Linked DNA regions of Homo sapiens: region 1 is linked to region 2. The links come from fine-mapping of genetic effects on gene expression. Tissue or cell type: lymphoblastoid cells. Region 2 holds a variant in brackets; the other region holds the start of a gene. All regions are shown on one strand. Distances are between the middles of the regions.

Evidence for each region. PIP is the estimated chance that this variant, and not a neighbour inherited with it, causes the effect.
Region 1: it holds the start of ZNF154, and the variant in region 2 is fine-mapped to the expression of ZNF154 in lymphoblastoid cells (TwinsUK, PIP 0.95).

The regions. Positions count from the first base shown.
Region 1 is chr19:57,707,919-57,710,621 of GRCh38, reverse strand. ZNF154 (zinc finger protein 154) reads left to right here and starts at 1,418. Exons shown (of 3, transcript NM_001085384.3): 1 at 1,418-1,683. The coding sequence starts at 1,651. RefSeq lists enhancers at 1,238-1,297, 1,318-1,447, 1,191-1,830.
Region 2 is chr19:57,862,746-57,865,361 of GRCh38, reverse strand. ZNF587 (zinc finger protein 587) reads right to left here. Exons shown (of 3, transcript NM_032828.4): 3 at 245-2,616. Among named protein-coding and RNA genes, the nearest start is that of ZNF587, 14 kb to the right of the region's middle. The variant G/TG (reference allele first, on the strand shown) is at 1,321.

The DNA of each region.
Region 1 (2,703 bases), 150 kb after region 2:
AAAAAAAAAAAGAAGAGATTTCTCACCTATATACCCTGAGTGTCTCTGCAGCCAGCAAAGCAGATGAAGGCCTGCTGGGTTGGAGCCCTAGGCCCTCCAATGCTGAAATGCCCTGTGAAGTCTCCATCCATCCAGGCACTCTAGTAACCTGCTTCTTCTGCCTGGAATTTATTCTAAAAATACCCACATGGCTCATTTCTCACTTCCTTCAAGTGCATTTCACCGGCTTTCTGATTAAGAAGTCCCACCTCTCCCCTTTGTCTCTTATCAAAGTAGCATTTCTTTCATTGTTTTTTGAGATTGATGTTAGACTTCTAGAAGGAATATATCTCAGATATCAAGTAAGAATTATGAAATGGATAAAAGCGTTGCTCAGTGAATTGGACACAGTTATTGACTGGACACAGTAATTGGACACAATAATTGACTATGCAGGCAAAAGATGTTTTCTGTTGGAATCAGACAGAATTCTACCTTTGTACTACTGTTTCAAGGTGATCTAACATTTCTCTTCTATCTTCTAGAAGCACTATCATGCCACTATCTGAAGTAGTTTTTCACCTGTCCCTGACCAAAAGTGCACAGACTGACTTCAATGCTTCGGAGTGCATACATTTGAAATGTAATATGATAGAGGCTGGGTACGGTGGCTTACGCCTGTAATCCCAGCACTTTGAGAGGCCGAGGCGGGCAGATCACCTGGGGCCAGGAATTTGGGACCACCATAGTGAAACCCTGTCTCTACTGAAAATACAAAAAATTAGCCTGGCGTGGTGGCGCGCGCCTATAGTCCCAGCTACTTGGAAGGTTGAGGCACGAGAATCGATTAACCCGGGAGGCGGAGGTTGCAGTGATCCCAGATGGCGCCGCTGCACTCCAGCCTGGGGGACAGAGGGAAACTTTGTCTTAAAAAAAAAAAAAAAGGAATAAACTTATATGGTAATGTTTATTAGCTTCCCTACTAGTGGATATATTTCGTGTCTGAATGGCTCTATGGAATGATGTACATATTTGGATTGGCAGCCTTAGGGAGCGTCTGATAATAATTTTAGCCTCTGGGAGCCTGCTGAACTTTATGAAGTTTGAAATAATATTCCCCAAACACTTGGGTGATCAGTTGCAGATGGCACCTCTAATATGCTGTCTGATTACGACCCATTTAAGAAAGGGCGAAGTCCCTCCACTGCCCTAGGACTTGGATAAGCCATTTCTCATCGCCCAGCGCCCTGGAGCTTCGCTTTTACTCCAAGAGGTTGGTGCAAAGGGTCCCCGGCACCCACCTCGGGATCTATGAAAACTACATTACCTAGAATGCTCTGCGTTGAACGCCACGCTACTAAGCCAGTAAGAGCTCAGAAAACCGACTTTCCTTGAGAGTCACAAAAAGAAAGGACGGGACTTTTGGGGGGGCCTCTTCGTGGCGGCCATTTTAGCTTCTCTGAGGTGTGTTCACCGGATCAGAGATAGCAGAGCGCCGAGTTGGGGCCACGAAGGCGTGAGGGGAGTCGTCGTCCCTCCTGCACGAAAGCGTCTAAGCCTTGGCGACGCCGCCCTGGGGGACCCACGTCAGGCCTGGGATAGGGACCGCTGTCCCCGGGTCCCTACCAATGTCGCCCGTCGCTCCCGGCCCAGCTCTACCCGCAGAGTCTGATGGCAGCGGCCACTCTGAGGACGCCAACTCAGGTGAGTGCGGCGTCTTCCCGTCCTCACACACCTTCCCCCACCCACGTTCTAAAGCCATCAGTGAGGGGCGCCTGCTCGAGTCCCCGCTGCCCAGGGTCGGGGACACTGAGGCGTTCGTGGGTGGGGCCCTTTTTTTGACACTGCGTGTGACGAGGTGTGGGAGAGCGTGACAGGCGGAGGAACCGGCGCGTGCAAAGGTTGAGGCGCGACTGAGCCAGGAGAATTCGGAAAGCTGTTTTCTGCAGGGAACGAAGAATATGAGGCGGAGTTACTCCTAGGGTTGTACTGTCATTGTGAGGATGCTAGAAGCCACGGAGAGTTCTGAACAAAGGAGGGACGCCATTTATGTTAGTTTTTTTTTCTTTGAGACGGAGTTTCGCTCTTATCGCCCAGGCTGGAGTGCAATGACGCGATCTCGGGTCACTGCAACCTCCGACTCCCGGGTTCAAGCGATTCTCCTGCCTCAGCCTCCCCAGCAGCTGGGATTACAAGCCTGCAGCTGGGATTACAACGTCCGGCTAATTTTTTGTATTTTTAGTAGAGACGGGATTTCACCATTTTGGCCAGACTGGTCTGGAACTCCTGACAAGTGATCCTCCTGCCTCGGCCTCCCAAAGTGCTGGGATTACAGGCGTGAGCCACCGTGCCCGCCCTATGTTAGGGTTTAAAAACTTTTCCAAAGACTGTTCACAGGAAGAGCAGCGATGGGGCGATGAGGACATTGAGATAGTGGGAGGCTACATCTTTTTTTCATTGCCCTACAGTTGGCAAGAGGTGACAGCACTGAGACCAGAAAGTAAAACAGCCAGCCTGAGTTCAGGGCCAGGCAGGGCTACAGGGAGGCTTGAGCTCATCTAGCCTCACCAGGGATGCATTCCTCTTTCCCTGGTTCTCCCAGTTGTAGAAGGGCGTATGGAACTCACATAGGGAAGTGGAGAGTGTTCGGTCCCTCAGTAGCCTCTACCCCCATGTTCTTGGGATTGTGGTTTCCTAGTATTCTTAAGTGCTGTTACCCCAATC
Region 2 (2,616 bases):
TAATTCAACACTTAGGGAAAGTAGAGGTTAGCAAGAGGAAGTTACTTCTCTTAGAGTATGTGATTCAAAGGAAAAAATGTGCCACATCAAATATACATGGACTGGCTAAACATTTCTAGGTACATGTAGATTTATAAGCCACTGTAAGATTCAACACAATGAGGAAATTACTGGTGTAATAAAAATAAACATTAGATTGATGAAACACAGTAAAATAATTTCAAACAGGAAAGAGGTATGAATCTTTTGTACAAAAAAAGTTTGACATATATTTAATTCACATACAAGCAGGAAGATTAACTTCATAAGAGAATTAACAAAAGTTGTATTAATTCAAGACAAGAGACTGCAGAGACTAAAATTGCTTAGTACTGAAACTTTTGCTTATATAAACTGTAGTTTATGGAGAAAATAAAGAATTTTTTTGTTTTTTTTGAGGCAGGATCTCACTCTATTCCCCAGGCTAGAGTGCGATGGCACCATCTCGGCTGATTGCAACCTCCATTTTCCAGGAAGGCTCTTTAATTCCCCCTGATTACAAAGGTTTTGTGTGAACATAATTTGGTGTAATAAAAAAAAATTTACACCACAAGAGACAAACATACTCTTCAGTGTGTGTGGTCATAATTTGTTTGAACGAGCCCTTTTAAACTTCTAGATATCATTGAAACTCCTATGTTGATTAAAAATCATCAAAGATCTTTCCAGTGAGAAGGATGAAGATATTACTGAGAATGAAGTATCACTATTTCATGTATGTGCCTGTATGTGCTTATATAACATGCTGTAATACAAGGTGACATTTAGGGGCTGAGACTGTTAACATCTGACTGTACCTTGCTATTTGTAACTTACAATCTTATTCACATTTCTCAAGTGCCATGCCTTTAGGTGCCTATACATCATGCTATCATAGGATTTCTAGGGATAAGCCGAGTGCGGTGGCAGATGCCTGTAATCCCAGCACTTTAGGAGGCCGAGGGGGGTGGATCATGAGGTCAGGAGTTTGAGACCAGCCTGGCTAACGTAGTGAAAGCCCATCTCTACTAAAAATACAAAAATTAGCTGGGCGTGGTGGAGGGAACCTATAGGCCCAGCTACTCGGGAGGCTGAGGCAAGAGAATCACTTGAACCTGGGAGGCGGAGGTTGCAGTGAGCCGAGACCATGCCATTGCACTTCAGCCTGGGTGACAGAGTGAGACTCTGTCTCAAAAAAAAAAAAAAAAAAAAAAATTTAGGGATAATATCTAAGCCCATATAACATGCTGTTATAAAGTTATAAAGTATAACATTTATGGATTGAGTTTTTTTTTTTTTTTT[G/TG]AGATGATGTGTCTCTCTGTCACCAGGTTGGAGTGCACTGGTGTGATATTGGCTCAGTGCACCTTCCACCTCCCAGGTTCAACCGATTTTCTGGCCTCAGCCTCCCGAGTAGCTGGGACTACAGGCACCCGCCACCATGCCCGACTAATTTTTGTATTTTTAGTAGAGACAGGAATTCACAATATTGGCCAGGGTGGTCTTGAACTCCTGACCTTGTGATCCGCCCACCTCAGCCTCCCAAAGTGGTGGGATTACAGGCCTCAGCCACCACACCTGGCCAAGATTCTTCATATAGCTGATTATCTTGCCATTTCTAACTTACAATCTTTTATCCACATTTCTTAACTTTCTTTTGTTACACTAAACGGGACAGGAAGTCTTAACTCTTGTATCCACCAAGCATGTTAGGAAAATAACAGAGATTCCATTAGCAAATTAAGCTCCCCAAAAAACACAAATACATATCTAAAAAATGTTGCAAAGACAAGAAGTGGCCAGGGCGTGTTGGCTCACGCCTATAATCCCAGCACTTTGGGAGGCTAAGGCGGGCGGATCACGAGGTCTGGAGATCGAGACCATCCTGGCAAATACAGTAAAACCCCGTCTCTACTAAAGAAAAGAATACAGGCCAGGTGCAGTGGCTCACGCCTGTAATTCCAGCACTTTGGGAGGCCGAGGTGGGTGGATCACGAGGTCAGGAGTTTGAGACCAGCCTGACCAACATGGTGAAACCTGGTCTCTGCTAAAAATACAAAAATTAGCTGGGTGTGGTGGCACGCACCTGTAATCCCAGCTAAAGAGGTGGCTGAGGCAAGGAGAAGTGCTTGAATCCAGGAGGTAGAAGTTGCAGTGAGCTGAGATTGCGACACGGCACTCCAACCTGGGCAAGAGAGCAAGACTCTGTCTCAAGAAACAAAACAAAAAAATTAAGCTGACGTGGTGGGCGCTTGTGGTCCCAGCTACTCAGGAGGCTGAGGCAAGAGAATGGCGTGAACCCGGGAGGTGGAGTTGCAGTGAGCCGAGATCGTGCCACTGCACTCCAGCCTGGGTGAAAGAGTGAGACTTCTCAAAAAAAACACAAAGTGTCCACTCAATAACTTTGCTTGAAACTGTCTTCATGTTCTTCACTTCACAAATATAAAGCTGTTACAGTGGACTTTGTGAGGTTCCATGTTTTTGGTCAGCCATAAGAGGAAGAATAATTCAGAGTGAGAGGAAACAGATTCTAGGCAGCCCTCAGGGAAGTTGAGGAGGTGGCACCCTGCCTCCGGGTCCCTCAGAATGTCCCATCTCCCT